Homo sapiens: one gene and its partners. Each later gene encodes a partner of the first gene's protein in a complex. Each region holds a gene or a part of one and is shown in the gene's direction. Other genes may lie near its edges.

Region 1 (7,040 bases):
AATCAGTTCTGTTTTCAGTGGAAAAAATGCTTTTGATTTATTTAGGGTCTGGTATATATTTTTCATGTCAGTTTACCTAATATGCATGAAAGTGTTTTAACATCTATGTATGTCTTTACAGAAGTTAGTTGTAGCTGGTTCCATATCTATTGTATAAAGAAGTATTAACAGAATAGGTTTGCTTGCATTATTATACTTTCATCAATGTGACAGTTTACTTGGATTTTTGTTTTCAGAAAGTGGTATTTTCATACTTGTATCTAAGTATTACGTTGCATTAGACAAAGTGTCTTCCATGAAGATAAACTGCCATCTTAGCTAATTTGGAACAACCAAGTCCTATTAATATAAATAGAAAATATTGACACAAAGAATTCTTTTCTTATTTAGTTGGTTATTTAATTTAAAGATTAATATTTTTACCTTATGGAAAGTTTGGAAAATAGAAAAAAAAATTATTCATTTTTGAGACAGGGGTCTCACTCTGTTGTGCAGGCTGGAGTGTAGTGGCAGGATCTTGGCTCACTGCAGCCTCTGTCTCCCAAGTCCAAGCGATCCTCCCACCTCAGCCTCCCAAGTAGCTGGGACTACAGGCACAAGCCATCACACCTGGCTGATTTTTGTATTTTTTTTGTAGCAACAGGGTCTCACTTTGTTCCCCAGGCTGGTCTCAAACTCCTGGACTCAAAGGGTCCTCCTGCTTTGCCCTCCCAAAGCTCTGGGATTACAGGCATGAGCCACTGCGCCCAGCCTTCCATTGACTTTTTTTTTTCTTTTTAACCATTTGGATTGCATTAAATATCTTTTTCATTTTTTGCATTATGTTTGTAAGCTTTATTCTTAGAAGAGAAATTACTGGGTCTGTTTTTTACAGTTTTTTATACAATGCCAAAATGTTTTCTTAAAAAAAATACTAGTTACCTACCAGTGATAAAAAGTTTCAGGTTTGTTTTACCCATCCAAACATAAGGGGTTAGACATATTTAAATTCTTATAATTTAGAGGACAAATTAAAAATGTACCTTGTTTATATTTCTTTGATTAGAGAGATTGAATGTGTTTTCTTTATGTGAGTTAGTTTCCCTGTTTATTAGTCCTGAAATTTTAAAATCTCAATTTGTATGAGCTTTTTAAAAAATAGAAAACATCTTATTTGTCATTTGCTATGGATCTTTTTTTTTAGTTCATTACCATTTAGTTATTGTACCTGAGTAGCTATTTTTTACACAAATCTTAACCTTCTCCCTTTGCGATTGTTTTTTTTTTGGTCACTTCTAAATTTATCAAGGTGTTAGATTCTGAGACCTAACATATCTATCAATTTGCCTCCTTTGTTTTGAGATACCTGTATTTATGTGACTTTCTATGTGTATTTATCTGGAATTACTTTTAGTGAAATAAGGTGGAGGTCTGAATTAAAACTTTTTCCTGGTTGTTAATGAAATGTTGCAGTGACTGAACTGTTTTGTGTGCCATAGTAGCACTGAGAAGTCCATGAAGTCCAATTATTCTAATGTCTTTCCTTAGTTTTCCTTCAGTTTCATTTATCTCATGAGACCTGAAAACTCCAACATGAACTGTGTACCCATGTGTTCTTTTTGCTTCTTAAACTAGTAACATTTCTGGCTTTATTCTACCACAAATTCTTTTTCACTTGCTTTCTATTATGTGAACCTCCACTGTTACAGTGTTAACATTTTCCTTCCTTTTTTTGTCACTGCAGGAAGTACTCCCACTACCCCAACCTCCTCTCAAGCCCCACAGAAACTGGATGCTTCTGCAGCTGCAGCCCCTGCCTCTCTGCCACCTTCATCACCTGCTGCTCCCATTGCCACTTTTTCTTTGCTTCCTGCTGGTGGAGCCCCCACTGTGTTCTCCTTTGGTTCTTCATCTTTGAAGTCATCTGCTACGGTCACTGGGGAGCCCCCTTCATATTCCAGTGGCTCCGACAGCTCCAAAGCAGCCCCAGGCCCTGGCCCATCAACCTTCTCTTTTGTTCCCCCTTCTAAAGCCTCCCTAGCCCCCACCCCTGCAGCGTCTCCTGTGGCTCCATCAGCTGCTTCATTCTCCTTTGGATCATCTGGTTTTAAGCCTACCCTGGAAAGCACACCAGTGCCAAGTGTGTCTGCTCCAAATATAGCAATGAAGCCCTCCTTCCCACCCTCAACCTCTGCTGTCAAAGTCAACCTTAGTGAAAAGTAAGTCACTTCTAAAGTTTGATTCTTCTGTGAGTTGGGTAGAAATATTGGATGTTATTTACTAAAAGTAGAGTCACTCTGAGAGGAGTTAACTGAGTAGAATTTTTTTACCCAGAGTGATACTTGCAAATGGCAAAAATTCAACCAACATAAAATACTGGCATTTCATCAGTGAATAGAGTCCAGAAGGGTCTCTTAGCTAGCATTTTATTTTTTTGACTATGGGATTTATATTCAGGTATTTGTTTTGCTTTTTTACGTTACAAATGTAGGAAATATTCCTTATTTTAAAAAAAGAAGCAATCCAGAGTATGCATCCTGGAAGGGAAATGAATCCCTTGTAGTCTTTTTTCCTCCCTGTGTCTACCCTTAACTCTCTCTGAACTGCTGTCTACACAGCCACAAAGTCATCTTGTGACACTGTAAATTGTTAGGTGATTCTTCTGCTTGACAGTCCCTATGAAGCCCCGTGGCTGCTCACTGCTAATTCTTAGGTTGGTATCCAGTTTCCTCCAGATCTGGGTCGGGCAGCTCACTCATTTCTTATTTATTTACTTCTTTATCTTGTTCTTTTCTTCCCACTAGAATGTAAGCTTTTGGAGGGAAGCAATCCCTTATATCTTGTAACCCCTCCCAAGATAACCATGAGTTCCCAAGATAACCATCGAGTATAAGTACTACCAGCTTTTTCCCTACTTGCCTGTACTATCTGTTGTTGCTATGGTGGTGCTGCTGCCACCACAGTTACTGTTAATACTGAATTGGCACACATCCACTTCATGCTAAGGGTTGCATAGTGTTCCATTTTGTTGACTGCACCACAGTTTATCTGACCAGTCATCTAATGCTGGAGTTTAGATTGTCTACAGACTTTTGCTCTTTAGGTGGAACCGACTTTACATTTCCTTTAGGCCATAAGTATCCCAAAGACAGTTCCCTGCATTCCTCTTCCTTTTTCACTCCCCAGAGAAGGTGCTCACTCTCAAAACGAGTTCTCAGTAATTTCCTTGGTAAGAGAAAGTACTAACTCTCCTAAGCATAATTGTGTCCCACCTCCTGTTTAAAACTCAGCTGGAAACAATAGTATTTCATATCATGATAAACTTGGTATTTCATATTGTGATAAACTTAGTTTTGATATTTCCCCTGAATAATTAATTCCTAAATAAGCAGACGAAAAGATAAATGTTTCCTTGCAGCTTTCACCTTTTATAAGAAATAGCTAAACATTTTTGTTTCCTGAAGGCAAAAAGTATGTTATCTTTGTAAGTTAACATAAAAGATAATAAGTTATCTTTTGATGACATTGCTCATGCTAGTGTAAAAGAATCTTCTAGCAGGCTCTTCTGAGGCCTTCAGGCTGCCATTTTTCAGGTTTACTGCTGCAGCTACCTCTACTCCTGTTAGTAGCTCCCAGAGCGCACCCCCGATGTCGCCATTCTCTTCTGCCTCCAAGCCAGCTGCTTCTGGACCACTCAGCCACCCCACACCTCTCTCAGCACCACCTAGTTCCGTGCCATTGAAGTCCTCAGTCTTGCCCTCACCATCAGGTATGATTTTAAGCAGACAACTTTAGACCTCAGCCCTGCCTTCTCAGATTAACGGTTTTAAGTGTTAAGAGTCGTAGCTAACATAGTTGGACAAGGTTATTTTTTCTTGCTTCCTGTATCATACATTAATGATTAATGTGCTGTGATTTTCATACTCTGAATTGGGAGATTTGCTCTTGCTTAAATGCTGCCACTCTTCTCTCTGACACTTCTTATGGAGCTAAGTGTATTTAATGAGTCAAAAATGCCTTGCTCTTGGGCATTTATTTTCATATGGAGCCTGCCCTCCATGAAGAGCAGTTACATAACAGTTCTTTAAGAAGCACAGGCACAAGAGTTGTTTGGCGGGGTGCGGTGGCTCACGCCTATAAACCCAGCACTTTGGGAGGCCAAGGCAGGTGGATCACCGGAGGTTAGGAGTTCGAGACCAGCCTGGCCAACATGGCAAAACCCCATCTCTACTAAAAATACAAAAATTAGCCAGGTGTGGTGGTGGGTGCCTGTAATCCCAGCTACTCAGGAGGCTGAGGCGGGAGAATCACTTGAACCTAGGAGGCAGAGATTGCAGGGAGTCGAGATCACGCCACTGCTCTCCAGCCTGGCGACAGAGCGAGACTCTGTCTCAAAAAAAAAAAAAAGTACAGAGGAGAGAGTACCTGCAGTGATTATATTCATATTTTCACAGTCAGTCATACTGTAAACAGGAAGTTTTGTTTTGTTTTTTGAGACCCTCTCACTCTCTCACCCAAGCACATCACTGCAGCCTCTACCTCCTGGGCTCAAGCGATCTTCCCACCTTAGCCTCCTGAGTAGCTGGGACTACAGGCATGTACCACCACCGTCGGCTAATTTTTAAATTTTTTTGTAGAGACAAAGTCTTGCCATGTTGCTCAGGCTGGTCTCAAACTCCTGGGCTCAAGCAATCCTCCTGCCTCAGCCTCCCAAAAGGCTAGGATTACAGGTTTGAGCCACCATACCTGGCTCCTAAAATTTTAATATATTTTTTTCATTATCTTAGAACAGAGGCTAGCACAACTGGTGGTCATCACTCTTTAAAATAAATCATGAAAGTGGGCCAGGGGCAATGTGTAACTTAATTTCTTAGATTTGGAGAAAGGACATTTGTGATAGGAGAAATAAAGGTAATAAATGCCATCTATTTTAACTGACTTCTTTTTCAAGCAGGACGATCTGCTCAGGGCAGTTCAAGCCCAGTGCCCTCAATGGTACAGAAATCACCCAGGATAACCCCTCCAGCGGCAAAGCCAGGCTCTCCCCAGGTATGTTTAAATTCAGCTTGCAATGTTTGTGTTTATTAATTTACTGCCCCAAGCATACCTATGAATAAAATGAGTTTTCATGTTTTATAATTCAGACCTTGGACATAGTAATTGGGACTATGTGATAGTAAATACCAAAGTGCGAGGTTTGAATACTTGTATACTCGTAAAAGCCATTTAGCTATTTTAATTTTTTATTCATGTATAATACAAATAGAAAAAAGTACACATGATACATGTACAGCTCAGTGAATTGTCAACAACTGAACATACCTTGGTAACTAGCATCCAGATCAAGAAACAGAATTTTACGAGAACCTGGCTGGGCACAGTGGGTCATGCCTGTAATCCCAGCACTTTGGGAGGCCAAGGCGGGCGGATCACCTGAGGCCAGTAGTTCGAGACTAGCCTGGTCGACATGGTGAAACCCCGTCTCTACTAAAAACGCAAAAATTAGCCGGGCGTGGTGGCACGTACTTGTAGTCCCAGCTCCTGAGGAGGCTGAGGCATGAGAATCACTTGAACCCGGGAGGCGGAGGCCAGAACCCCAGAGTTCTTTTTCACCTGTCCCCTTCTAGTCACTACTCTTGCCAAAGAGTAGCTGATTTGATTTCCAACAGCATAGATGAGGTTAGCCTGCCTGTACCTCCTATCAAGTGGATTTGTACAGTATGTATTCTTGTATCTGGCTGCTTTGTTCAACATTATGTTTGTGAGATTTATCCATGTCGTTGTATGGAATTTATTGTGTGATTATATTACAACTATTTGTTCCACTCTGATGGGCGCTTGAGTAGTTTCCAGGTTTAAGCCATTGTATGTAGCACTGCTATGACCGTTCCAGTTGACATCTTCAATGAACACATATGCAAGTTTCTCTTGGGTGTATCCCTATGAGTGAGATTGCTGGGTCATAGAATCTGCATGTATTCCTCATTAGTAGATTCCCACCAAGAGTGTATGAGACTTCTGGCTGCTCCACATACTTGCCACTCTTGGTATTTTTCATCTTTTGTTGTATGGTTTTGTGGTTTTAATTTGTATTTCTCTAATGATTAGCAAAATTAAGCTTTTTAAAAGATGATTATTGGCCATTTGAATATTTTCTTTTATGTTGTGTCTGTTCATGTCTTTATTCTGTTTTTCTGTTGGATTGTCTGGCTTTTTCCTTCTGATTTTTAAGAGTGAGTTCCTTGAATACACACACACACGCACACACATACAGTGCAAATATGTTCTCACTGTGAATTGTCTATTCATTGTCTTTTTTGTTTCTTTGATGAATACACATTCTTCATTTTAATATAATTAAGTATATCAGTTTTTTCTTTTATGATTAATGCTTTTCATGTTTTAGAAATAATTTTCTATTTCAAGGTCAAAAAGATGTTTTTCTAAAAGCTTTATTATTTTATCTTTCATATTTAGATTTGTAGTCCATCATCTCAGTTTATTTTTATGGTATAATGTAAAGAGAATTGTATGTCAGTTTCCCACGTGATTACTTGAGTGCCCTGAGAATAAGCGTTATGTCTTTTCCTTTCTGTGTCCCTCTAACCAACCCTTGTACCCTAACACACACCTGTACTAGGTACATAGTAAGTGCCCAGGTCACAGTTCACGGTGTGGCATGATGCATGACATACAGTGTTTGTCAAATAAATGTTTGCTGTTAATGAATGCTGATGCAGTCTAAGACCTCTCTAGTGTTAATCGTTGTAAGTATCAAATAGTCTAAAGGGCATTTCAAATTATAGTATCTTTAAAGCAGAACTCTTGATTTCTGTCTCCCCTAGAGGCTAGTCCTTTTCCAATGGGTAAGTAGCACTAACAAACCAGATGTTTGCACAAGCCCCAAGCCCCGAAGCATCCTAGATCCCTCTCTTTAACAGTACCTGTCCCCAGTCCAGGCTGGCGGGAGGTCTTGTCAGCTCCACCCTCTGCTGTGTCACATGTCATAAGCCCACAGCTCTGTCCCCCTGCTAGCATCCTGTGTCAAGCTGTTGCACCTC
Region 2 (5,658 bases), on another chromosome or scaffold:
TGGTCCAAGACCATCCCCCAAATCATCAGCTCTGATTGCAGGATTCATCAGTTTGCCGTTCTGTTGCAATCCCAGTGGAGATAAAAGCATAGACCTAGAAAAAGCCTTAAGAAGGAAGGTTGCAAGTGCCCCCAGCTTGCACTTGAGGAAGGGGTAAACCTTGCCACTGCACTCCTCTGTAGCTGCTCCACTGTGAGTTGACTGCTCGGCCTTGTACACACCCCTCCTAGAAAGACGTTTAAGCCCCTATTTCCCTTCTCTGGTGGTCAGTTCCTCTGCTCAGACGACCCCCTTCCCCACTCATTAAGGTAATTGGCCAGGCAGGCTCATGGGTCACGTGCTGAGTCTGCAATGTACAGAATCCAGACCACCACATGGCATCAGCACCATGGGTGTTTGCTCCCTGAGCAGTAGTTGTCACCCATCATTTGCTCTGTTTCCCCCACCATCAGTCCCAAAGCCCTAGACTAAACCAGAGAGCAAATTAGGTCGTGTTTGTTCCTGAATGGGCCAACTGGAGCCTTGAGACAGTGGGCAGTGGTCTGCTCTGCTGGTTTGATGGACGGCTCCCTGAGGTAGACTCTTTCCCAGCAGAATGTTAAGATCCCCAAAGGGTCCCCAAAGGTGCCTTTGCTTGTAGGGAGAAGTTTCTGTCTTGTCACAGGGTGTGGTCATCCCCACTGTCTCCCAGTTGTTAAAATAATTGTTACCTTTTCTTTTGGGAAGAAATAATCTGTAGATAATGGAACCAACTGCTGCTTATCGGTAGGATTCCATGTTCCAGGAAGGATGCGGCCTGAGGGTCAGTGGAGCTGTGTTCTGCCTTCCTCCTCTAGTCCCATCTTGTCACCCTGGAGGACTGTCTTCAATTGAGCTTTACTAGAAAGTCTTGAAACATGAGCCCTGCAGAGGCCTTGATTTAGCAAGTTGTGCCCTGCTTATATGTGCTGATTTAAGCTAATCAAATGATTTAATAGTGCTTTTTAAAAAAGAGTACTCCTGGCCGGGTGGGGTGGCTCACACCTGTAATCCTAGCACTTTGGGAGGCCAAGGCAGGTGATCACCTGAGATCAGGAGTTCAAGACCAGCCTGGCCAACATTGTGACACCCCGTCTATACTAAAAATACAAAAATTAGCCGGGCATGGTGGCAGGCACCTGTAATCCCAGCTACACAGGAAGCTGAGACAGAATTGCTTGAACCCGGGAGGCGAAGGTTGCAGTGATCTGAGATCATGCCACTGCACTCCAGCCTGGGTGAAAGAGCGATACTCCGTCTCAAAAAAATAAAGAGTACTCTGGCCGAGTGCAGTGGCTCACGCCTGTAACCCCAGCACTTTGGGAGGCCAAGGCAGGCAGTTCGCTTGAGGTAAGGGGTTTGAGACCAGTCTGGCCAACATGGGGAAACCCCGTTTCTACTAAAAATACAAAAATCAGCTGGGCATGGTGGCAGGCGCCTGTAATCCCAGCTACTCGGGAGGCTGAGGCAGGAGAATCACTTGAACCCAAGAGGCGGAGGTTGCAGTGAGCCGAGCTTATGCCACTGCACTCCAGCCTAGGCGATGGAGTGAGGCTCTGATTCAAAAATAAAAATAAGAGTACTCTGTGGACTTTTCATAAAGTGCAACTTAGTGCTTTGTTTTTCTAATACTAGATTTTACTTGCAGATAGAAATATAACAATGCCACAAATGAGAAGGCTCAAGTTGTTTAAATACATGTTTGCTCCTGGCTTACCTCTTCTTCACTATCCCATGAGAATCGTGGATTTGCCTTTCCTTGCATCCTGCAGTTCTACTTGTCTCAGAGAGAACTGCACACCAGCCCTGCATCCAGGGGATGAGGTTCTTTGACCTGTAGATGGGTCCTAAAATGAGAAGGGAGAGAAGCAGCCAGACCTTGAGCTGCTCTGCTAGGGGAGCTGTGAGTTGGGAGAAAAGTGGTCACTGGTTGGCAGTTAAGGACTTGCTGAGAGAGACATTTGTAGGAGAAAGAAGATAAGTAGGTTCATACCAGAAGGGCCAGGACTCGGATGGAGCAAATCCCAGTTCTTGTCCTACAAGCTGATTGTGCGATTGAGCACAGGCCTCTGGAATTGTGCAGAGATGAGAAACAGGCTGAATTTGCAAGGCCACAACATCAGGTTGTCATGTACCCATCATTACAGCTTATGCCCAGAAGTCCTGACCCTGTGACAGGTTATTATCTTAAAAACTCATCTTCAGCCCACTTTTTCAGAGAACTAACTCTTTCCTTAGATGTTGGGCCAGGATTTCACTATTTACCCAGAGAAACTAAGAGAAAGTGGCACTAGGCGTCTTGTCTTCCAGATGTGAGATTTCGATCTTTCTAATGAAATTGGGGGCACTTTGAGACTGTCAGGGTTTGTTCCTGTCTCAGAATGGCTCATAATAAACTCACTGAAACACTCAAAGGAAAGTACTGACTTGATCTGGATCCTTTTCAGAGGCCTGGAGATTTAATTTCACAGATTCTCTTCTTTTGGCTCAACAACAACAGCAACAAAAAACTCTTTGACTCCCCAACTTCAGAGGGAAAACTGAAGCGAAACTGGTGAGCTCTGCCACGGCAGATGCCTTCCTTTTTCACTCACGAGCTGGGCGGGCTCATCAAAGAGCAGGAAGTGCCCATTTTACACTGGGGCCAGGATGCAGACCCAGCTCCTGTCCTCCGCGAACTTACAGTCTAATTAGAGCCTCTTAAGGACAATTTGGCAGCCACTGTTAACTCTTGATGCATCATTTAAATCCTAGAACAGGCAGCTTTAAAGCAAAGAACTACAGACTTTTCCGCAGTGTCCAGCATTTGCTGACCAAAAAAAACCTGAGGGTGATTTTTCTCTCTTTGAATTTTTACCCTTGCCTGCACCTAGCCAGAACCCTTAATACTAAATTTGCAGTTATATGCAGCTCTGCCAACGCCTTCCTGCTTTAGACTGGATCTCTACTATCCTTTTTCTCTACTAGGCACCAGAACCTTTGTCTAGTTCATTAGGTGGTTCACATCACTTGCCAAATTTCCAGCATGCCACTCAGGAAGTGACTTGAGCATGCTGAATGCTGAGTCAGAAAATGAACCCCTGGGCTGGCGGGTTGACCCAGGCCTGACAAAGTCTTGGCAGTCCCCACACTGACTGCGAACTCTCCCTTAGCCTCAGTCAGCTGGGAAAGGAATTGAGCCCTGTGTCAGCAAATTGGGAGAAAGTGTTACATATAAAATTCTTGATGGAAATGTGTGTTTTATATCAGAATTGAGCTTTTGTTCCTGCATCTCAGAAATACCAGGAAGAAGTCAGCATCTCATTAAACAGGAGTTGTCTAAACTGTGGAAGAAAATATCCCCCATTCTTTATCCTACGCTGAATCCACAAGTCTTCCCATCTTCCACCATCTTCTGACAGTTCCATAATATATTGGTATCCCTCACAGGGCAGGGACAGGAAGGAAATAAATCTTTCTGCCACTTGTTTCCAACCGAAAAGGAAAAAAGTTAAAAATTACTAAAGTGTTCTGAAAAGAGATTTCAAGTGGTCTGTGCTGCTTTTTTGCCTTGTTACGCACATAACTTGTGACTGGCTAGATAGGCCACGTGTATTTATCAGCCAAGATTCCATTGCAGCAGATGATTTCAAAACCTCTTTGTGTGCTGGGCCGTGCTAGGTAGCTGGAATATCTGAGGTAAATTAAGCACTGATTTGTTCCCAGAGTTGTGCATAATTCTTTAAAAGTAGGCTCGTTTTTTTCGTTTTTTTGTCCAGGATCACCTAAGTGAAGTACTCGTGGTTCTAAGTTGCTAACCCAGGGAAAGAGGATATTTTCCTGTCCTAACCTTGGTTTTTGAAATATGCTTCTCCTGTGTGCCCTCTCTGGGGTATCTGGCCCACAGTAGATTGCTCAGCAGATATTTGAATGAGCAGATGCTTTGCTTTGTCCTCCTGTGCCAGGCTCCTCCCCACATCCTCTGGATCAGCTCCACGTGCCTAGATTCAGACTCCGTGATTCACCGTGGGGGCCCTTAATAGGCATTCAGTCTGAAAGAAGGTGGAGGAGAATAATGTCTCCCAGGATCAAATGAGACTCAGGGCTGTTCCTTCAAAGACAGAAACTTGCAGAGCTGCACAGCAGCAGGGAAACATTGAGAAGGGGGTGGAAATTTGATGTACTGTGAATAATGAAGGCCGGATCTTTAAAAAGAAAAAGGGACGGGGTGCTGGCAGAAACCCAGCTCTGCGCTAGCACAATCTGTACACCTGGCTGCCTTTGCCCTTGAGCTTCTATTTCTTGGGGATGGGGAGGGCAAAAAAGTTTGCCCCAGACACTGGCTTCTGTTTGAACAGGAAGTGGGGAGTCAGTGATCCCAGAGGGGACTTCAGCATCAGGACATATGCTTTGGTGGCCTCAGCAGACCTGGCCTAGGCAGGCTTTCAGGTGGCACCCAGGGGCTTTATGGCCTGCAGGTAAGGCCCCTTCATCCGGGTCAGACTTAGCAAATAAAAATATAGGACACTCAATTAAGTTTGCATTTTGGATAAACAGTGAAGAAGTTCCTAGTGTAAGTATGTCCCAGTTCTATGTGGCTGCCCTACCTGGGCTTGCCTCTGCTGGTACTAGCTGCCCAGAGACCTTCAGGCCTGCCACGGGCTGCCGGGAGCTCTCTAGTGGAATTGGATTACCCTGATTTTGTGCATTGTTTGTGCTTTTGTGGGCATCGGAAATGACTGAGATACGCAGTTTTGAAGAGCTAGGCAGGCAGCTGAGCGGGATAATGTGGGCCCCAGTTGACCTCAGTGGCTGTCATCTACTGTGTTTTTCAACCAGGAATTTCAAATACTGTGTATTTTAGAAAGAAAGGAAAGAGCCAAAGTACAGCCTTTTCTCACTTGATCAGTAACTTGTGTTAGAAACTCAGTGGGGGAGAATTCTTTGCGTTTTTCAGTTGACTGATTATTTTCCTTTTTTTCTTTTTTGCTTTTCTCGAGTCACTCTGTGTGGTGCTTGTGGGAGAAGGGAGAGGGTGGGAGAGCGTTGGTGGATGTGTTCTGCATGTTCCTTTCTGTACAGTAACTTCTGCATTTACTCTGTTTAGGATGGTTCCTTCACCACTATCCCTGTCTGTAGCCAGTAAATTTCTGGAATATTCTCCCAGAGTGCCATGTGCCCCCTTTGTTCAGTCCTTCAGTGGAGCAGAAGCCTCTCTCAGGCCTTTCCTGGGAATATCTTTAGCTGAGGCACAGCCTGGGGGCTCCTCAGAAGGTGACAGAAGTGCCTCTACCTGGCCTCGGGGCTTAATGAGCCAGGCCCCTTCTCCACTCCCTGCAAAGAAGGCTCCTAAGGCCTATCCAGTCCCTGGGTCTGCGAAGTCCCCAGAGGTCTCTGTAAGTACAGGACTCCCATCCCAGCTCTGAATTTGTGCTTTCTCCCCCTGAACTTCAGAATTCTTGGCCGGAAAGGTCAGATTCTGACTGTGGTGGGACAGTAAGTCAGAAGCATTCTGGTGATAAACCCAGCATGTGGCATGCATTCTGGGGGCTAGGAACAGCTAAGATCTGTAACCCTTTATTTTAGACCTTCAGTGGAAAGCATTTTAAATGGGGGTTGAGAGCCACGTATTGGCCTTGGGGAAGGGGAGCCGGAATTTGG
Region 3 (6,620 bases), on another chromosome or scaffold:
TGGCTTTGTGCAGCACTATGTCTGGTCTCCGTCACTTGAGTTGTGTTGTTAGTTCTCTGCTCTCAGTGCTTGCTGCCTTCCAGCCTTGGAGGCTGCTGGATCCTTTGGGAAGACACCGGGCACTGTCTCAGCCCTTCCTTCCAGTTGTTGGTGGCTTTCGTGCAGGCTAAGGCTTTGGCTCCCTTAGCCTGGGTCCCCTATAGCCTTTTCACTGGCTTCTCCAATGGTTTCGACATAACCATCAGCTAGAAATCTGGGTAGCAACAGCTGTTTTGGGAAGCTGAGGTGTCCTTTCCCCTGGCCCAGCCCACTCCCTCCCATTTTTTTCCCCAGCTTTATTGAGGTGTGATTAACAAAGTAGTATGTATTTAAGGTGTACAAAATTTTTTTTTTTTTTTTGGAGACAGAGTCTTGCCCTGTCACTCAGGCTGGAGTGCAGTGGCACGATCTCAGCTCACTGCAGCCTCTGCCTCCTGGGCTCAAGCGATCTTCTGCCTCAGCCTTCCGAGTAGCTGGGACCACAGGCACACGCCACCACGCCCAGCTAACTTTTGTATTTTTGGTGGAGATGGGGTTTTGCCATTTTGGCCAGGCTGGTCTTGAACTCCTGAGCTCAAGTGATCCACCCGCCTCGGCCTTTCAGTGTTGGGATTACAGGAATGAGCCACTGCACCCGGCCAAGGTGTACAACATGTTTTTTGTTTTTTTTTTTTTTTGAGATGGAGTCTCACTTTGTCGCCCAGGCCGGAGTACAATGGCGCGATCTCGTCTCACTGCAAGCCCCGCCTCCTAGGTTCACGCCATTCTCCTGCCTCAGCCTCCAGAGTAGCTGGGACTACAGGTGTCCGCCACAACATCCGGCTAATTTTTTGTACTTTTTGTAGAGATGGGGTTTCACCGTGTTAGCGAAGATGGTCTTGATTTCCTGACCTCATGATCCTCCCACCTCGGCCTCCCAAAGTGCTGGGATTACAGGTGTGAGCTACCGCGCCCGGCCAACAACATGTTTTGATAGATGTATACATTGTGAAATTAAGCTAGTGACATCTGTCACCTCACATAGTGACCCTTTTGGTGTGCGTGTGGTGAGAACATTCAAAAGCTACTTTCTAGCTGGGTGTGGTAGCGCATGCCTGTAATCTCAGCTACTGAAGAGGCTGAGGCATGAGAATTGCTTGAACCTGGGAGGCAGAGGTTGCAGTGAGTCGAGATCTCACCAGTGCACTCCCGTCTGGGTGACAGAGCAAGACTCCACCTCAACTACTTTCTGAGCGATTTTTTTTTTTTTGAGATATGGTTGTGCTCTCTCACCCAAGTTGGAGTGCGGTGGCGTGATCTCGGCCGATTGCAGCCTCTGCTTCCCAGGCTCAAGCAATACTCCCACCCCAGCTTCTCGAGTAGCTGGGATTACAGGTGTGTGCCACCATGCCTGGCTAATTTTTGTATTTGTAGAGATGGGGTTTTGCCATGTTGCCCAGGCTGGTCTTAAATTCCTGGACTCAGGTGATCTGCCTGCCTTGGCCTCCCAAAGTACTGGGATCACGGGCATGAGCTATCATCACGCCCGGCCCCATCTCTTTGAGGGACAGGACATGTGGGGTTTCTTGCTCACCCCCACTCTTGTGGGACGCGGCCTGTGCCCTGATTTTCCTTCTTGCCTTGGTGTCTGAATCTGCAGCATCGCCCTGAGCAACTGGTGGTTTGTGGCCCACCTGACAGACCTGCTGGACCACTGCAAGCTCCTCCAGTCACACAACCTCTAGTAAGTGGCCGGGAGGCACCGATCCTCCTCTTCTTACCACCAGGCCCCCGAGGGTGGTGTGAACTGAATGCCTGAAAGGGAGGTTGGGCTAAGGGGGCCCTGAACAGGGCAGGCCAGGAGTCTTGGTCTTTTGTTATGTTTTATTCCAGTTTCGGTTCCAACATGAGAGAGTTCCTCCTGCTGGAGTACGCCTCGGGACTGTTTGCTCATCCCAGGTAGGAAGGACCCCATGGGTGTGGGCTATGCGGGTGCTCTTCAGCATGCGGGTGCCATTGGAGCTTGGACTGTTCTCTCCCAGTTGGCTCCTTGAAGGCTTCGGAAGGGTCAGTGAAAGGGAGCTGTAGGTGCCAGTCCTCGGAGCCATGAGGCAGCACCTCATGTCTGTCCTCCTCGAACCTTTGCAGCCTGTGGCAGCTGGGGGTCGATTACTTTGATTACTGCCCCGAGCTGGGCCGAGTCTCCCTGGAGCTGCACATTGAGCGGATACCTCTGAACACCGAGCAGAAAGCCCTGAAGGTGCTGCGGATCTGTGAGCAGCGGCAGATGACTGAACAAGGTGAGCTGGCCCTGCTCCCAGCCTACTGTCTGTGGGACGCAGGAGTCAGGGGATCCTGAGGTCACACTTTATGCCTACCCCAGCCATCCTCCTCCTCACGAGCCACACTGGAGACGTGGGGCTGTGGACGCCAAGAGGTAAACTAAGAGATGGGATAATTACTTGGGAGGGACAGGAAAGCTAGGGATCCACTGGAACCCAGACAAAATCTACACGCCATCTGGAAAGGCCTGAGCCGCCCCTTTTCTCACACACTTGATTCCACGAGGTCAGGGCTGGGGTTGGCGCTGTTTCCCTGTCCAGGTGGGTTGCTATTGCTAGCTCAGCCTGGCTCAATGGGGAAGCAGTGCTGGAGGTGGCTCCAGAAAAGCAGAGAGAGTGGAATGAGGATGACCAAGTCTGCCCCTTCATTTCTCCCCTCACTGTTGAGTAATGTAAACATGAGTTATTACCCTGCAGAGAGGCAGTTGCATGTTCACGACCATTTCTGAAAGCATATGGTATTCACGATCCACAGGAAGATGTGATTTGAGGCATCTGGAGAGGTAATAGAAGAGCTGACACGTAGGGAGAAACACGTAGGGAGAAAAAAAATAGAAGAGCTGACATGTAGGGAGCAACGTTTTGCTCCCCTTGAAGCCACACACACTCATAGAGCCAGTCTTGCCGTGATGGGCACTTACACTCTTAGCAGATCCCAGACACTGTTAATCAGCCGAGTTTCCAGCTCTGCCGATCCAGCTGCATTTAGAGCCCAAAGAGTGGCTCTGCGGTGGAGTGAGGCTGTGAGGCCACTCCGGTCCCCACAGGGCTCAGGAATGGAGTGATTTGTGGAGTGAAAGCCGTTTACCTTTTCTTTTCCCCTGCAAAGTTCGCAGCATTTGTAAGATCTTAGCCATGAAAGCCGTCCGCAACAATCGCCTGGGTTCTGCCCTCTCTTGGAGCATCCGTGCTAAGGATGCCGCCTTTGCCACGCTCGTGTCAGACAGGTGGGTGCCGCTAGTGTTGGCTTCCCAGGGACTGGGTGGTTGAGGTGGGCCTGAGACTGCTGCTCTGATCTCTGGGCCGGGCCCTGCAGGTTCCTCAGGGATTACTGTGAGCGAGGCTGCTTTTCTGATTTGGATCTCATTGACAACCTGGGGCCAGCCATGATGCTCAGTGACCGACTGACATTCCTGGGTGAGTCTCTGGGTTTTGTGCCCTGTGCTTTGGGCACAAGTGGGTAGTTGGGGAGGTTGGAGGGATCACGTCAGACTTCTCCCAGCGCTTCCTTCATGTATTCCCATTGCATCAGTGGTCCCAGAAACATCCTCCGTCATGTCCAGGATCATGAGTTTGGCTGTCACATCTCCTTAGTGCCTCCATGTTTGTTTGTTTGTTTGTTTGTTTTTCTTTCTTTCTCTCTTTCTTTCTCTTTCTCTTTCTCTTTCTTTCTTTCTTCTTTTCTTTTATTTTTTCTTTTTTTTTTTTTTTGAGACAGAATCTTACTCGCTCTGTGGCCCAGGCTGCCAGGCTCACTGCAACCTCCACCTCCTGACTTCAAGCAATTCTCGTGCCTCAGCCTCCCAAGTAGCTGGGATTACAGGCACGCGGAACCACACCTGGCTAATTTTTGTATTTTATTTATTTATTTTTTGGGGACAGAGTCTCACTCTGTCACCCGGGCTGGAGTGCAGTGGCGTGATCTCGGCTCACTGCAACCCCCGCCTCCCGGGTCCAAGCAATTCTCCTGCCTCAGCCTCCCAAGTAGCTGGGACTACAGGCGCACGCCACCACACCCAGCTAATTTTTTGTATTTTTAGTAGAGATGGGGTTTCACCGTGTTAGCCAGGATGGTCTTGATCTCCTGACCTTGTGATCCGCCTGCCTCGGCCTCCCAAAGTGCTGGGATTACAGGCGTGAGCCACTGCGCCCCGCCTAATTTTTGTATTTTTAGTAGAGATGGGGTTTCACCATGTTGGTCAGGCTGGTCTGGAACTCCTGACCTCAAGTGATCCGCCCGCCTCGGCCTCCCAAAGTGCTGGGATTACAGGTGTGAGCTACTGTGCCTGGCCAGTGCCTCCATGTTTCTTCTTTTTTTTTTTTTTTTTGAGACGGAGTCTCACTCTGTCGCCCACGCTGGAGTGCAGTGGTACAATCTTGGCTCACTGCAACCTCCACCTCCCGGGTTCAAGCCATTCTTCCTCCTCAGCCTCCTGAGTAGCTGGGACTACAGGTGCATGCCACCATACCCGGCTAATTTTTGTATTTTTAGTAGAAATGGGGTTTCACCATGTTGGCCAGGTTGGTCTCAAACTCCTGACCTCAGGTGATCCACCTGACTCGGCCTCCCAAAGTGCTGGGGTTACAGGCATAGGCATGAGCCACCACGCCTGGCCTAGTCAATCTCTTTTAATCCATGACTCTTGTTATGTATTTTGACTCTGATGTTTCCCCAGATTTGGCTCTTCGGAGTTCTTCCAAGTCTGTTTTGAATGCTCTTGGTCTGCATCTCATTGGGACCTATGAGTTTGGAGACAGAAAAAAATCTCCTGCTTTGTGGAGTGGCTGGTCTGAGGTTTTTCTTCTCCTGTTTAGGGCCAGGGTGACTTTTGTAGGTGTCACTTGGGCAATTTGGGGGAATATGCAGGTTACTCAGTGCTCTTGTTTCGCCATAGGAAAGTATCGCGAGTTCCACCGTATGTACGGGGAGAAGCGTTTTGCCGACGCAGCTTCTCTCCTTCTGTCCTTGATGACGTCTCGGATTGCCCCTCGGTCTTTCTGGATGACTCTGCTGACAGACGCCTTGCCCCTTTTGGAACAGAAACAGGTGAAGGTTGCAGCAGCAGTGGTTTTCTTTGCTTGTCAGTCCCTGCTAGAGCTTAGTTGTATAGCTGTTGCCGATGTGCGTGTTTCCTCCTTTGTCGTTCTGCCTGTGCGCGTGTATTCCCCTTAGCGCCCTCTCTGGGATTCCAGACTCACACAGGAAACAAACACTGCTTGATTTGAAATGAGGTATTCGTATACAAAGCACACTATTGCGAAGGGTATGAAAGGAAGAACGTCCGAACATGGGCCCCTGCCCCAACCAATGCAGGCCAGGGCTGGGGGCAGCCAAGCAAGGCAGGCTCTCTTCCCTAGGTGATTTTCTCAGCAGAACAGACTTATGAGTTGATGCGGTGTCTGGAGGACTTGACGTCAAGAAGACCTGTGCATGGAGAATCTGATACCGAGCAGCTCCAGGTCATTTTCACTTTTGGGTTGATGGTTCCACATGGAGGTGGGAAAAGGCTCCCTCTATCTCAGGCTTCCCCTTCCCTCCAGAAACACTGGCTCCTATGGACACATGTGCCTCTGTTCCCCTTAACCTGTGTAATTCACACACCACCTTCTTTTAGGAGAAAATCAGGGATTCTAGTGTTCTCATCTCTACATTTTGTTCTTTGCTGTTCATCATTTCCAGTATGGCCCTTTGGTATTGCTTTCTTTTACATCGATAATTTGCTGGAAGCTACTATGAATGTTAAGTGCCCTCTACCTTTGGATTAGCTAGACCCTTCGGGAGTGTGAAAGGGCTCCTTCCTGCTCTTAGCTCATGCTGGCGCTCTCTGCTTTGCAGGATGATGACATAGAGACCACCAAGGTGGAAATGCTGAGACTTTCTCTGGCACGAAATCTTGCTCGGGCAATTATAAGAGAAGGCTCACTGGAAGGTTCCTGAGAACTGCTTCAATGTGGTATCTTTGTATGGCAATGTATATAGATTTTTTTAAAAGAATAAATGTTGTTTTGCAAATGTAGGTTCTTAGAGTCCACCCAGGGAATTTTTTATCTGTCTAGTCTGAACCTGAGGTGGTAAGAGATTAAAAAATGCTTGTTTTATGTTCTTTTTTTTTTGAGACGGAGTCTTGCACTGTTGCCTGGCCTGGAGTGCAATGGCACGATCTCAGCTCACTGCAACCTCCGCCTCCAGGGTTCACGTGATTCTCCTGCCTCAGCCTCCCAAGTAGCTGGGATTATAAGTGCACACCATACCCAGCTAATTTTTTTGTATTTTTAGTAGAGATGGGGTTTCACTGTGTTGGCCAGACTGATCTCAAACTCCTGACCTTGTGATCTGCCCGCCTTGGCCTCTCACAGTGCTGGGATTACAGGCGTGAACCACCACACCCGGCCTTGTTTTATGTTCTGATACGCAACTGTCTTCCTGTGCCTCCTTAGATAAGAAATCACCCCCCAGGTCGGGTGCAGTGGCTCACGTCCTGTAATCCCAGCACTTTGGGAGGATCCCTCAACCCCAGGAGTTTGAGACCAACCTGGGCA
Region 4 (7,040 bases), 2.2 Mb from region 1:
AGCAAGACCCCGTCTCTACAAAAAATTTTTTAAAAAATTAGCCAGGCATGGTGGTGCATGTCTGTAGTCCCAGCTACTTAGGAGTCCAAGGTGGGAGGATTGCTTGATCCTGGGAGGTTGAGGCTGCAGTGAACTCTAGCCTGGGAGACACATCGAGACCCCAGCTCAAAAAAGCAAAAAGCTTTATAAACATTACGCATTCCCTACTTCTTTGCTGAAATGAGACTACCTAGCCTAGCTGCTGAAGTCTTTTAAATCTACCTTTGTATTTCATTGATTCCTTTTATGAAAAGATACCTGTGTTCATTGCTTGGCTGCTGAGAGTAGGGGTGCAAATACCATTCTTCTACCTCAACCTAAGAAAGATTCTTGGCCAGGCATGGTGGCTCACGCCTGTAATCCCAGCACTTTGGGAGGCCGAGGCGGGCGGATCACCTGAGGTCAGGAGTTCGTGACCAGCCTCAACATGGAGAAACCCCGTCTCTACTAAAAATACAAAATTAGCCCGGTGTGGTGGTGCATGCCTGTAATCCCAGCTACTCGGGAGGCTGAGGCAGGAGATTCGCTTGAACCCGGAAGTGGAGGTTGCAGTGAGTCGAGATCGCGCAACTGTACTCCAGCCTGGGTGACAAAGCGAGACTCCATCTCAAAAAAAAAAAAAAAAAAAAGTCAGGCTTGGTGGCATATGCTTGTATTAGTAGTTCCAGCTACTCAGGAGGCTGTGGTGGAAAGATCGCTTAAGCTCAGGATATCAAGCCTGCAGTGAGCCATGATTGCATCACTGCACTCCAGCCTGGGTGACAGAACAGGACCCTGTCTCAAAAAACAACAAAGAAAACTTCACCACAACATCATTTATATTATTAAATAATTACAGTCAGCTTAAGTATATCAAACATTAGAGGAATGGTAAATGAATTATGATCTACCAACTTGATACAAGTATTATGCAGCAACTTGAAAGTATGTTTATCAAGACTTTCATAATAAGGTTAAGTCATTATGTTATAATGTTAAGCAAAGAAAAGAAGGTTACAGAATTCTGTATTCAAAATGATTTCAACTCTGGGGAAAAATGCATATTAAAAACACTCAAAGGAATGTGTAATACTTAGTGTGATTCTGGAATCTGATTTTTTTTTTTTTTTTTTGAGACGGAGTTTCGTGCTTGTTGTCCTGGCTAGAGTGCATTGGTGCAATCTCGGCTCACCACAACCTCTGCCTCCCAGGTTCAAGTGATTCTCCTGCCTCAGCCTCCCGAGTAGCTGGGATTACAGGCATACACCACCACGCCCAGCTAATTTTGTATTTTTTAGTAGAGACAGGGTTTCTCCATGTTGGTCAGGCTGGTCTCCAACTCCCAACCCTAGGGGATCCGCCCGCTTCGGCCTCCCAAAGTGCTAGGATTACAGGCCTGAGCCACCATGCCTGGCCGAGTCTGATTATTAATAAAACTGCATTTGGGCCGGGCGCAGTGGCTCACACCTGTAATCCCTGCACTTTGCTGACATGGGCAGATCACGAGTTCAGGAGTTCAAGACCAGCTTGGACAATATGGTGAAACCCCATCTCTACTAAAAATACAAAAAAAACTGACTGGCATGGTGGCGTGCGCCTGTAGTCCCATCTGCTCAGGAGGCTGAGGTAGGAGAATTGCTTGAACCCAGGAGGCGGAGGTTGCAGTGAGCCAAGATTGCGCCACTGCACTCCATCCTGGGTAACAGAGTGAGACTCCGTCTCAAAAAAAAAAAAAAAAAAGAAAGCACAAAAAACTGCATTTGCGGTCGGGTGCCTTGGCTCACGCCTGTAATCCCAGCACTTTGGGAGGCCAAGGCAGGCAGATCACTTGAGGTGGGGAGTTCGAGATCAGCCTAGCCAACATGGTGAAACTCCATCTCTACTAAAAATACAATAATTAGCTGGGTGTGGTGGCTGGCACCTGTAATTCCAGCTACTCGGGAGGCTGAGGCTCGAGAATCACTTGAACCTGGGAGGCGGAGGTTGCAGTCAGCCAAGTTGGTGCCACTGCACTCCAGCCTGGGTGATAGAGTGAGACTCTGTCTCAAAAAAAAAAAAAAATACTGCATTTGTATAATTACCTTGTTCTTTTCCAGAGTCAGATTGAGGCAGAACTGAATAAACATTGGCGGCGATTGTTAGAGGGGCTTTCTTACTACAAACCTCCCAGGTATGGCAGTTCCGGGTGTCTGGTTAAAGTAATTGTCCTAAGGAAGCTGACATGGATAAAACCATCCTTCTATGTGCTTTGATGATATTGTAGGGTTATGTATACCAGAGATAATACAATTTAGTTTACCAGTGGAAAACAGTAGGGTACATTTGTTTTTTTGTTGACCGAAAGAAAAGGAAATTCCTTCTAGAAATACAGTATTGTAGAATATAATTATGACCTATGTGTGGGGATGAGAATTTATTAAACATTCAACGAATTTTCTAATATTTATTCAGAGTCCACAGTGTCTGTGTGAGTACTAATTGGTGGGAGATAGCAGTGAAGGATGATGCTAACAACTGACACTTGTGTAGTGTTAACTATGTAACAATTAATACTCTAAGCACCTGACTTATCAAAAGTTATTTAATCCCCACAACACCCCTTTGAGATAGTTACTACTTTTATTCTTTGGGTGAATATATAGATCTTTTTATTGGGTAGTGGAAAACATAGTAATAAAATATAAAGTAGTTGCAAATAAAGAGAATGCAGCTTGTAGGGCTGGGCTTATTTGATCTTGATTCCTAGTCCAGATCTCATTCTATTATGCGTTATAGTCTAAGTCACCCTCATTTCCCTTCTACTTTTGTACTGCTTTTGAATGTATTACATCTTTACCTTCCATTTTCATTCTCTTAGGTTAACGATGAACTTTTCCTTGTTATTCATCTGTCTGTTAATTCTTCCCCTGTAATTACCTTAAAGTAAATCCCAGATACCTTGTTATTTTATCTGCAAATACTTGACTATGTATCTAAAATACATGGACTTTTTAAAAAGATAATCTCTATATTATCACATTTAGGTACCCTTATCATTGTTTCCATTTTACCAGTGGGGAAACTGAGGCACAAAGAGGTTAAGCAACTTGTCATGGTCACACAGCTACTAAGTGATAGAACCAGGATTTGACCCTGGTGGTCTCATTCCAGTGTCTGTTCTTTTTTTTTTTTTGAGATGGGGTTTTGCTCTGTCGCCCAGACTGGAGTGCAGTGTCACATCTCAGCTTACTGCAACCTCCACCTCCCGGGTTCAAGTGATTCGCTTGCCTTGGCCTCCCGAGTGGCTGGGATTACAGGTGCCCGCCACCACGCCCAGCTAATTTTTGTATTTTTAGTAGAGATGGGGTTTCACCATGTTGGCCAGGCTGGCCTTGAACTCCTGATCTCAAGTGATCTGCTCACCTCGGCCTCCCAAAGTGCTGAGATTACAGGCGTGAGCCGTCATACCCAGCCTATTGTTTTCTTTACTATCTTTTTTCTGTTCCAGGATCCAACCTAGTTGTCAAGTGCCTGTAGTCTCCTCTTAGCTGTGACAATGTCTTAGTCTTTTTTTTTTGAGATGGAGTCTCGCTTTGTGGCCCAGGCTGGAGTGCAGTGGCACGATCTCGGCTCACTGCAAGCTCTGCCTCCCGGGTTCACGCCATTCTCCTGCCTCAGCCTCCCGAGTAGCTGGGACTACAGGCGCCCGCTGTGACAATGTCTTAGTCTTTTTTTTTTTTTTTTTTTGAGATGGAGTCTCGCTCTGTGGCCCAGGCTGGAGTGCAGTGGCACGATCTCGGCTCACTGCAAGCTCTGCCTCCCGGGTTCACGCCATTCTCCTGCCTCAGCCTCCCGAGTAGCAGGGACTACAGGCGCCCGCCACCACGCCTGGCTAATTTTTTGTATTTTTAGTAGAGACAGGGTTTCACTGTGTTCGCCAGGATGGTCTCAATCTCCTGACCTCATGATCCGCCCGCCTCGGCCTCCCAAAGTGCTGGGATTACAGGCGTGAGCCACCGCGGCCGGTGACAATGTCGACAATGTCTTAGTCTTACCTTGATTTTCATGACCTTGAACAAGTTTGAGGACTGGTCAGTTATTTTGTAGTATGCCCCCAATTTGGGTTTGTCTGATGTTTTCCTTATTATTAGACTGGGGTTGTGAGTTTTTGGGAAAAATACACAGAGGTGAGGTGCTCTTCTTTTTTTTTTTTTTGAGATGGAGTTTCGCTCTTGTTGCCCATGCTCGCGTGCAATGGTGCGATTTCAGCTCACTGCAACCTTTGCCTCCTGGGTTCAAGCAATTCTGTCTCAGCCTCCCGAGTAGCTGGGACTACAGGTGCATGCCACCATGCCTGGCTAATTTTTGTATTTTTAGTAGAGACAGGGTTTCACCATATTGGTCAGGCTGGTCTTGAACTCCTGACCTCAGGTGATCCGCCCGCCTCAGCCTCCCAAAGTGCTGGGATTACAGGCGTGAGCCACCACGCCTGGCCAAGCTACCCTTCTTACCACATCATAGCAGAGAGTACATGCTGTCCACATGAAATCACTGGTAATGTTAATCTTGGTCACTCAGTTAAGGAGGCATTTGCCAAGTTTCTCCTCTGTAAAGTTACTTTTTTCTCTTTTCCTATTTTATTTTTTGGAAGTGAGTACTAAATATAGCCATGTCCAGCTAATTTTTTTCACTTTTGGTGGAGATGAGGGTCTCACTTTGTTGTCTAGGCTGGTCTCAAACTCCTGGCCTCAAGCTACACTCCTGCCTTGGCCTCCCAAAGTGCTGGGATTACAGGCATGAGCCATTGTTCTGGCCCCTCCCTATCCTATTTATTTATTCATTAGTTTATATCAGTATAGACTCAAATATATTTATTTTATTTATCTTATACTTTGTTTATACCTTGTTTCAGCTTTGGCTATTGGGCATTCTTTTAGGTTGGCCTCTGTCCTTTGGGCGTGTCCTTCCTTTTTTCTTTTTTTCTTTTCTTTTTTTTCTATTATGTCATCTCCTACCGAAAGGACTTTGGTTTCTTAAGCCCTTTTGTACTTCTTTTCACTATAAGATGCTTCAAGATTTTCTTGTATTTTCCTTGCCCTGACTCTAGAATCAACCAATTCTCCAAGGAATCCTGTTATTAGAGAATGGTATTATAAAGCAGGATCTGGGTGCTGCATGTACCTCCTGCTGTTGGAGTATTATAAATTCTAGGCCTTCTCGGTGGACAGAGCTATTACAGATAATATATTAATATATGTATGTATGCCACAGACCTGGTTTTAAATTTTAGCAACTGTTTATGAGCTGTGGGATTTTTGGTAAGTTATTTACCCTAAGTGCTGGCAATTCCATTTGTAAAAGGAGAATAGTAATATTTGCCTTTTAGGGCAGTAGTAAGGATCAAAAATAATGTAACTTAATGTGTTTACAAATAACATTGTTATAACTGTAATTTAACCACTTTTTTTTTGTTTTGTTTTGTTAGGCATAACCAGTTCTGCGTTATGAAGTTTGTAGAGGTGAATGGGTGTGTGTGTGTGTGTGTGTGTGTGTGTGCGTGTGTGTGTTTGTGTGTGTGTTTATAGGCATCTGAAGGGCAGAAAATAGTCTGTAGGAAAAATATTTTAAAATATTTTTATTTTAAACTCAGTGGGCTATTGAGAATGAAGAAATGATTCACTGTTCTTTTTGTAGTCCAAGTTCAGCTGAAAAAGTGAAAGCTAATAAAGATGTAGCTTCACCATTGAAGGAACTGGGTTTAAGAATCAGCAAGTTTTTGGTGAGTAAAAATTAGCACTCGCTCAATTTATTACTTGCAGTGTGGATGTGCGTGGTTATATTGCTAGTGATAGTGAAAATTCAGTTTCTTTTTGTTTTGGGGATTAAATTGTTTTATAAATACCCAGGTTGCAACTCTTCTCCCTAAAAGTTACAAGTCAAAGTTGCCTGATCCATTCACTGCATATCATAGGGTTTTCTTCACCAGACATGTGGTGGTCTTTAAGGTGACTAAGTTTGTCATTTTGGAAGCTCACATCATGCCTACTGCTGTATTAATGTGCTTAGTGAATAAGCATCGTTGTTTCTGGCATGTACATTTAATTGTAATAAAAATTGTATGTCAGTGACTGGCTCTTGTCTTCTATTAGAGTCAGAATTGTTATGTTTTATGAATCTTTGAGAAGCATTTTTGTTTATTCAAGTCCTGTGTTCATTGTAGAAGACAAATCTTTAAATTCTCTGCATCCTGTGTGCGATTTCTGAGCTGTTCCTTACTTAAAATCTCTGTGTTTCAGGGTCTTGATGAAGAACAGAGTGTGCAGTTACTCCAGTGTTACCTGCAAGAGGACTACAGGGGTACTCGGGACTCAGTAAAGGTTTGTGGTTTATGTCAGCTCCTTTCTTCTGCCTTTATCCTTTTTCCCTGTTGGTTTTAGATAATGTAGGATTTTGGCACCAATTCTTTTATCGGTGGTAGGTGATCAGGTACCGTCATCTTCAGGGAAGACCTACTAAAGGCTTTAAAAAAAACATGACCTGGGTGCAATGGCTTGTGCCTGTACTCCCAGCTTCTTGGGAGGCTGAGGCAGGAGGATCACTTGAGTCCAGGAGTTTGAGGCTGCAGTGAACTGTGATCGCACTACTGCACTCCAGCCTAGGCAAAAGAGTGAGACCCTATCTCTTTAAAAAGTAAAGAATATATATGCATATAAGCTGAGATCTGTCTTCATACTTGGAGGAGTGGAGAGGTCAAAGACTGACATGTTAATCATAGAATCTTGGGCTATTAGAGGTGATAAGGATTTGGTAGAGTTTCTTTTTTTTTTGAGATGGAGTTTCGCTCTGTCTCCCAGGCTGGAGTGCAATGGCGTGATCTTGGCTCACTGGAAGCTCTGTCTCCCGGGTTCACGCCATTCTCCTGCCTCAGCCTCCCAAGTAGCTGGGACTATAGGCGCCTGCCACCACGCCCGGCTAATTTTTTGTGTTTTTAGTAGAGACAGGATTTCACCGTGTTAGCCAGGATGGTCTCAATCTCCTGACCT

What was found.
Region 2: NUP214 (region 1) and NUP93 share a complex: the UniProt entries of both Homo sapiens proteins name them as parts of the nuclear pore complex.
Region 3: NUP214 (region 1) and NUP85 share a complex: the UniProt entries of both Homo sapiens proteins name them as parts of the nuclear pore complex.
Region 4: NUP214 (region 1) and NUP188 share a complex: the UniProt entries of both Homo sapiens proteins name them as parts of the nuclear pore complex.

What each region holds. Positions count from the first base shown.
Region 1 is NC_000009.12:131,142,557-131,149,596, forward strand, and holds part of NUP214 (nuclear pore complex protein Nup214), read left to right. Parts: intron 1-1,723; coding exon 1,724-2,198; intron 2,199-3,572; coding exon 3,573-3,748; intron 3,749-4,930; coding exon of another isoform or gene 4,931-4,933; coding exon 4,934-5,028; intron 5,029-7,040. UniProt on the Homo sapiens protein: Part of the nuclear pore complex. Has a critical role in nucleocytoplasmic transport.
Region 2 is NC_000016.10:56,845,129-56,850,786, forward strand, and holds the end of NUP93 (nuclear pore complex protein Nup93), read left to right. Parts: 3' UTR 1-5,158; downstream 5,159-5,658. UniProt on the Homo sapiens protein: Plays a role in the nuclear pore complex (NPC) assembly and/or maintenance. May anchor nucleoporins, but not NUP153 and TPR, to the NPC. During renal development, regulates podocyte migration and proliferation through SMAD4 signaling.
Region 3 is NC_000017.11:75,229,662-75,236,281, forward strand, and holds the end of NUP85 (nuclear pore complex protein Nup85), read left to right. Parts: intron 1-1,678; coding exon 1,679-1,762; intron 1,763-1,911; coding exon 1,912-1,977; intron 1,978-2,166; coding exon 2,167-2,318; intron 2,319-3,189; coding exon 3,190-3,307; intron 3,308-3,396; coding exon 3,397-3,497; intron 3,498-4,975; coding exon 4,976-5,127; intron 5,128-5,438; coding exon 5,439-5,540; exon of another isoform or gene 5,541-5,541; intron 5,542-5,916; coding exon 5,917-6,018; 3' UTR 6,019-6,097; downstream 6,098-6,620. UniProt on the Homo sapiens protein: Essential component of the nuclear pore complex (NPC) that seems to be required for NPC assembly and maintenance. As part of the NPC Nup107-160 subcomplex plays a role in RNA export and in tethering NUP96/Nup98 and NUP153 to the nucleus.
Region 4 is NC_000009.12:128,950,659-128,957,698, forward strand, and holds part of NUP188 (nucleoporin NUP188), read left to right. Parts: intron 1-2,114; coding exon 2,115-2,188; intron 2,189-5,691; coding exon 5,692-5,776; intron 5,777-6,293; coding exon 6,294-6,374; intron 6,375-7,040. UniProt on the Homo sapiens protein: Component of the nuclear pore complex (NPC), a complex required for the trafficking across the nuclear envelope. Required for proper protein transport into the nucleus.